2 linked regions of the Homo sapiens genome follow. The protein of the gene in region 1 purifies or fractionates together with the protein of each later gene. This does not show direct contact. Each region holds a gene or a part of one and is shown in the gene's direction. Other genes may lie near its edges.

Region 1 (3,813 bases):
AGCTGTTCGGATTCCCCTGGCCCGGCTCCCGCGGATGCATCCAGTGGCAGCGCCAATTCTGGGCCAGGGGGAAGGAGGAAAGGCGGGTGTGGGGTGGTCTCCACGGCTGGAGAAGGGGCGACGCTCCCTAGGGGAGAAGAGGCACGTTGGAGGTTTCCGGGGGCGCGGGGCGGAGCAGGCCCCCCAGTCCCCATCCTGCGCCCTCACCCCGCCGGGTCCGCTCCCGCAGGTCCAGGCTCAGCTGCAGCTGGAAGGCGTGGCCCACGCGCACCCGCACCTGCACCCGCACCTGGCGGCGCACGCGCCCTACCTGATGTTCCCCCCGCCGCCCTTCGGGCTGCCCATCGCGTCGCTGGCCGAGTCCGCCTCGGCCGCCGCCGTGGTCGCCGCCGCCGCCAAAAGCAACAGCAAGAATTCCAGCATCGCCGACCTGCGGCTCAAGGCGCGGAAGCACGCGGAGGCCCTGGGGCTCTGACCCGCCGCGCAGCCCCCCGCGCGCCCGGACTCCCGGGCTCCGCGCACCCCGCCTGCACCGCGCGTCCTGCACTCAACCCCGCCTGGAGCTCCTTCCGCGGCCACCGTGCTCCGGGCACCCCGGGAGCTCCTGCAAGAGGCCTGAGGAGGGAGGCTCCCGGGACCGTCCACGCACGACCCAGCCAGACCCTCGCGGAGATGGTGCAGAAGGCGGAGCGGGTGAGCGGCCGTGCGTCCAGCCCGGGCCTCTCCAAGGCTGCCCGTGCGTCCTGGGACCCTGGAGAAGGGTAAACCCCCGCCTGGCTGCGTCTTCCTCTGCTATACCCTATGCATGCGGTTAACTACACACGTTTGGAAGATCCTTAGAGTCTATTGAAACTGCAAAGATCCCGGAGCTGGTCTCCGATGAAAATGCCATTTCTTCGTTGCCAACGATTTTCTTTACTACCATGCTCCTTCCTTCATCCCGAGAGGCTGCGGAACGGGTGTGGATTTGAATGTGGACTTCGGAATCCCAGGAGGCAGGGGCCGGGCTCTCCTCCACCGCTCCCCCGGAGCCTCCCAGGCAGCAATAAGGAAATAGTTCTCTGGCTGAGGCTGAGGACGTGAACCGCGGGCTTTGGAAAGGGAGGGGAGGGAGACCCGAACCTCCCACGTTGGGACTCCCACGTTCCGGGGACCTGAATGAGGACCGACTTTATAACTTTTCCAGTGTTTGATTCCCAAATTGGGTCTGGTTTTGTTTTGGATTGGTATTTTTTTTTTTTTTTTTTTTTTTTTTTTTTTTTGCTGTGTTACAGGATTCAGACGCAAAAGACTTGCATAAGAGACGGACGCGTGGTTGCAAGGTGTCATACTGATATGCAGCATTAACTTTACTGACATGGAGTGAAGTGCAATATTATAAATATTATAGATTAAAAAAAAAATAGCCGTGCACTCTTGACCCCGTCAGCGTCCAACGTGGAAAAGGCGTTACCTCTTCTCCCAGCGCTGGCCGCCTGGCCACTGAGGGCCCTTTGCAAAAATCACGGGTGTAGAGATGGCCCTGGGCGCGCTGGGAGTGTGGTTGTGTTTCTGAAGGGGATAAAAGAGGGCACGGTGGTGCCAAGATATCAGTTTGGTACCTGAGCTGTTTCTGGTTGGGAAGCGTAAAAGCCAGGGAGAGATCCAGAGAGTTTTCAAGTTTTTGCAGATGTAGGTGGTTCCAGCTTTTCTTTCTCCCCTACTCCATCTTCTGCGTTCCCCCAGTTCTTTTATTTCTTTGTTTTTTATTTTTGAGACAGAGACTTGCTTTGTCGCCCAGGCTGGAGTGCAGTGGCGCAATGTCAGCTCACTGCCACCTCCGCCTCCCGGGTTCAAGCGATGCTCCTGCCTCAGCCTCCCGAGTAGCTGGGACTACAGGCACCTGCCACCACCCCCGGCTAATTTTTTGTATTTATAGTAGAGACGGGGTTTCACCGTGTTGGCCAGGCTCGTCTCGAACTCCTGACCTCAGGTGATCTGCCCGCCTCGGCCTCCCAACGTGCCCCCAGTTTTATAAACAGCAGATAGCAACTTGTCGTCACAGCTGGCATGGGCTGGACAGTTGCTTGAAATGACCTAACCAAAAACATTCAAGGGTTCTGCCCCCAGATTTCGGGAGATCCACGTTCCATGTTCTGATTGGTTTTCTGGGAACACAGCAAGGGGTTTGGTGACCTCCGAGAAGATCCATCTGCATGATTGGCATTAGTTACCACAGCCTGCCCAGAGAGAAACTATCTTCTCCCAACATTTACTAACATCCACTGGTCAACTCTCTTATTTCCATAACACATTTGCATCTTTCTGGATTCAAGCTTGGTGGTTTTCTTTCCTAACTTCTGATTTAGATACTTCTCCCTGAGGTGGGGATAAAAGAAAAAAAAAAACAACTTCTTTTTTTCTTCCGCATAACACTTTCTATCTTGTCACTGAGCTGAACTGTAGATCCATTTGGACCCGTCTCATTTGTATCTTCTGATATTCTTTATACAAACCAAAAGTCCCCTTCAACATTTTTTATGTCAAAATGTTACAACCGCTGTAAAATGACGGAGAGAGAGAGAAAGAATCCCAGACATTAACGGTATTAGAGAGTTTGCCTCATTCATCCATTTTTCTTAAAAGCTGGAAATTAAAAAAAAAAAAGAGAGAGAGAGGCTTTAATAGTTAAGCTGAAATTTTTATCGAAAAGAAGAATTGCATTTTGAATCTTTGGGAAGTAGGTTCATTCATCAGAGTATGTAACCCTTTGGAAAAGTGGTTGGTAAGATATGTACAGCCCTAGATTTTTTTTTTTTAACCAAAAAGGCTGAGTAATTTTGAAAAATCGAAACATAACAGTGTGTCATCATTTCCTCCCAAGAAAAAGCTCACTCCACGTGAGTAGAAAGACATCTACCTGGTCCCTGTAGAATCTGAACGTTTCTCTTTAGAGACGGAATTTCAATCTTGTCCCCCAGGCTGGAGTGCAGTGGCACAATCTCGGCTCACCGCAACCTCCGCCTCCCGGGTTCAAGCCATTCTCCTGCCTCAGCCTCCCGAGTAGCTGGGATTACAGGCACCTGCCACCAGGCCTGGGTAACTTTCTGGTATTTTTAGTAGAGACAGGGTTTCAGCCTCCCGAGTAGCTGGGATTACAGGCACCTGCCACCAGGCCTGGGTAACTTTCTGGTATTTTTAGTAGAGACAGGGTTTCAGCCTCCCGAGTAGCTGGGATTACAGGCACCTGCCACCAGGCCTGGGTAACTTTCTGGTATTTTTAGTAGAGACAGGGTTTCAGCCTCCCGAGTAGCTGGGATTACAGGCACCTGCCACCAGGCCTGGGTAACTTTCTGGTATTTTTAGTAGAGACAGGGTTTCGGCCTCCCGAGTAGCTGGGATTACAGGCACCTGCCACCAGGCCTGGGTAACTTTCTGGTATTTTTAGTAGAGACAGGGTTTCGGCCTCCCGAGTAGCTGGGATTACAGGCACCTGCCACCAGGCCTGGGTAACTTTCTGGTATTTTTAGTAGAGACAGGGTTTCAGCCTCCCGAGTAGCTGGGATTACAGGCACCTGCCACCAGGCCTGGGTAACTTTCTGGTATTTTTAGTAGAGACAGGGTTTCGGCCTCCCGAGTAGCTGGGATTACAGGCACCTGCCACCAGGCCTGGGTAACTTTCTGGTATTTTTAGTACAGACAGGGTTTCAGCCTCCCGAGTAGCTGGGATTACAGGCACCTGCCACCAGGCCTGGGTAACTTTCTGGTATTTTTAGTAGAGACAGGGTTTCGGCCTCCCGAGTAGCTGGGATTACAGGCACCTGCCACCAGGCC
Region 2 (3,813 bases), on another chromosome or scaffold:
TAGTATCAACTTTTAATTTTTAGTAATAATAACAGTTTAATAATATAACTTAAAAATTCCAAATTTCTGAAATCTTTAATATTTGTAGCTACTTTTACTTTTTGTGACTTTCTTTTCTTTTGTATTTACAAACATTACATCTTGGAGTGAGATACACACACCCATCATTAGTTCATGCCTCTGCTGGTAGCAGCTTTGAATAAGAATGATTTAAAAACACATTACAGGCCAGGCGCGGTGGCTCACACCTGTAATCCCAGCACTTTGGGAGGCCGAGGTGGGCAGATCACGAGGTCAGGAGTTCAATACCAGCCTGACCAACATGGTGAAATCCTGTCTCTACTAAAAATAGAAAAATTAGCTGCGTGTGGTGGTGCACACCTGTAATCCCAGCTACTGAGGAGGCTAAGGCAGTAGAATGGCTTGAACTCGGGAGGTGGAGGTTGCAGTGAGCCCAGATCGCACCATTGCACTCCAGCCTGGGCGACAGGGTGAGACTCAGTCTCAAAAAAAAAGAAAACAACCAACACATTACAGTAGCAGTGGGGCCTTCCCTCCCAGGTCTCGCTGGGGTTGTGGGTGGCCATGGAGCTTGTGCTGCAGGGATCACCAGGTTCCTCTAAATGAAGCATGGCGGGATCCGATCTGCTTCATTATTATTAGACTGTGTGCTAATATAATTGTAGATATTTTTAAATCTTGGACTTTTAAAATTAAGCAACCTTAGAGCTGATCCAGTTCTAGTGTTGTTGTTTTGCAGAGGGGGGCATTAAAAAAAGAAAGAAGTTGTCACAGTGACAAACCAGAGTAGAATCTGAGTCTAAAAGTAATGCTTTTGTTTCCCTGATATCGTGAACATGGCTACTCAGCTATCCAGATAGAGAAGTCTGGCTTTTAATAGATGAGCAATGTGTGACTCTAGCAAGAGGTCAACTACTTTATCATTCATGTTACTGAAAAAAGAAGACAGAAACGAGGCCTTAAGCATGGTTGGTATTGCTGCTTTTGCGTTAGGTTGGGGTAATGCATGAATCTGGACGGGTTCTGGTTTGATAGGCGCTTTCACGGGACAGATGTTGTTTTTCTTTCCGTTTCTTTCCATTTCAGCTCTTTTTGTAGCAAAGTGGCCCAGTCAGTGGCATAGGGTGGTGGGTGCAGCAGAACGCATGTCTGGTTTGCTATCTTTGTCCTCTAGTCACTGCAGGAGGAAAAGCTGGCCTAGGGATTTGAGTCTCCTTGCACTTTCTCACATTTAAAGGCAACAGCTCATAGCATAAGAATGGGAACTGAAGACAGCAGCCTTTAATCTTAATGTATTTTGAGATTGCTATCATACTCATTTGATATGAAACAATGTCCAGCCTGCCTTGCCAACCTGTGACTGTTGGGCCAGGTGCAGTGGCTCACATCTGTAATCCCAGCACTTTCGGAGACCAAGGCAGGCAGATCACAAGGTGAAGAGATCGAGACCATCTTGGCCAACATGGTGTAACCCCGTTTACTAAAAATACAAAAATGAGCTGGGCGAGGTGGTGGGCGCCTATAGTCCCACCTACTCAGGAGGCTGAGGCAGCAGAATCGCTTAAACCCAGGAGGCGGAGGTTGCGGTGAGCTGAGATCGTGCCACTGCACTCCAGCCTGTGCGACAGGGCGAGACTCCATCTCAAAAATACAGAAACAATGTCCAGCCTGCCCTGCCAGCCTGTGATTGTTGCTGCTCTCGTTCTCTGTGGAGTCTTATCACAGGCGTGAGTGCCTGGTCTGACAGAGTCGCCAGCGTCTGTCGGGGATTTCATCACTGCTGGTGCCTACGTGCTGTGCTGGCCACATGTCTAGGACCACTGGAGGACTTACGCCTCCAGTCATCTAAGAAACAGCTCATCATTGGGAATGGTTTTTGAAAAGATGCAGCTCTTGCCTTAGATCGTGCTTTGTGGTGAAACAAGAGGAGGTGGCAGTCCCATTCTCTGATGGCTCAGACACGTTGCCACCCAGAGGCTCGGCCCCGTTGGTGATCTGGTGACGTCCAGACGAGTGCAGACTGCCCGATCGTCTCAGGCATGATGGCACTACAGAAAGTCTTGCTTCTTTAACATTTTTCTTCCTTAGGGAAAACAGTGTCAGATTCACAAATTCAACAGTATCATCTATGTCGTTATGAGTATCTAGTTCACAAACATGCCCTAAAGGAGTTGAGACAAAAAAAAAAATGCCATGGACGAGTTGGTGCTTATTTGCATGATTTTTAAAACAACAGGCTCTGTGTTTCTGGGCATTTAGAGAATTCAGAAGAGCTGTTGAGTCCTCTTAAGTAGTTACTATAGTGGAGAACTTGAGTCATTCTTTGTAGCGTGCTTCGTAGAGCAGCGTGTTTGTTAGAAGGATTTGTTAATCCTGTATAGGGTCTTTACGAAGGCTGTTTTCATGGAAGCTTCTCTTTGTTGACTCCAGGTTCATCAATGCCAGAAGACGAATTCTTCAGCCAATGTTGGATTCAAGTTGTTCAGAGACCCCCAAAACAAAGAAAAAAACTGCTCAGAACCGGCCAGTTCAGAGGTTTTGGCCTGATTCTATTGCATCAGGAGTCGCACAGCCACCGCCGAGCGAGCTCACCATGTCGGAAGGTACAGGTGGCCGGCCAAGGCCAGACATGGTGGACCATGGGGTGGGGATTATGAACAAGAGGCCTGGATCAGGCCTGTTAGCTGTGAGCCTCAGGTAATGTGGTGAACGAGAGTGCGTGGTTCTCTTTCTCTGCAACTAAAACATGAGGAAGCTGCATTCTGCGTGCACGGGAGCTCTCAGTAAGAGTTAGGAGCACCAGTAGTAGAGAATGTAAAACACGTGATAGAGATATGAAATCATTAATTCTGTCTCAAAGACACAGTCATGCCCATGGATCTTCTCCTTTGCTTCTGTGTTTGCTCTCCTTTTCCCTCCGACGCCGGGTGTGGAGGAGGGACTTACCCCGTTCTCACCACGTGGCTTCTTTCTCTTCATCCCCCATGCCCTTCTCTTGTTTTTGCTTGTTCCCTGTGGCCTCTGCTCTCCATCCCCTGACGTAGGCAGCCATTCTGATGTGTTTTATAGGCATCTTTCTGTTCGCATGAGGTCTTCATATTTTGGATGGTTTTGTGTGCATGTGTTTTTATTTTTTTTTATTTGTTTGCTTTGTTTTTTTTTTTTTTTTTTTTTGAGACAGAGTCTCACTCTGTTGCCCAGGCTGGAGTGCAATGGCGCAATCTCGGCTCACTGAAACCTCTGCCTACCAGGTTCCCGCCATTCTCCTGCCTCAGCCTCCCGAGTAGCTCGGAGTAGCTACAGGTGCCTGCCACCACGCCCGGCTAATTTTTTGTATTTTTAGTAGAGACGGGGTTTCACCGTGTTCACCAGGATGGTCTTGATCTCCTGACCTCGTTATCCGCCTGCCTCAGCCTCCCAAAGTGCTGGGATTACAGGCATGAGCTACCGCGCCCGGCCCAGAAACAGTTTCTTAAATCCCTGTTGAACATTCCCTAAACATATATAGGTGTTTTATTTTAACTTTAGGTCAAACGAGCAAACAGCACCCAATTGAGTAATAAAGTGTTTTTCTGTGAGTACTAATTTAAATAATGACACACCTTCATCCTGCCGCAGGAGCTGTTGTCACCATCACCACGCCCGTGAACATGAACGTGGACAGCCTTCAGTCTCTGTCCTCGGACGGGGCCACCCTGGCGGTGCAGCAGGTCATGATGGCAGGGCAGAGCGAGGACGAGTCTGTGGACAGCACAGAGGAGGATGCGGGTGCCCTGGCCCCTGCCCACATCA

What was found.
Region 2: the proteins of SHOX (region 1) and PKNOX1 purify together in Homo sapiens (affinity purification with mass spectrometry; one large-scale study listed by BioGRID and IntAct). This does not show direct contact.

What each region holds. Positions count from the first base shown.
Region 1 is NC_000023.11:644,162-647,974, forward strand, and holds part of SHOX (short stature homeobox protein), read left to right. Parts: intron 1-229; coding exon 230-475; 3' UTR 476-3,813. UniProt on the Homo sapiens protein: Controls fundamental aspects of growth and development.
Region 2 is NC_000021.9:43,026,251-43,030,063, forward strand, and holds part of PKNOX1 (homeobox protein PKNOX1), read left to right. Parts: intron 1-2,451; coding exon 2,452-2,624; intron 2,625-3,639; coding exon 3,640-3,813. UniProt on the Homo sapiens protein: Activates transcription in the presence of PBX1A and HOXA1.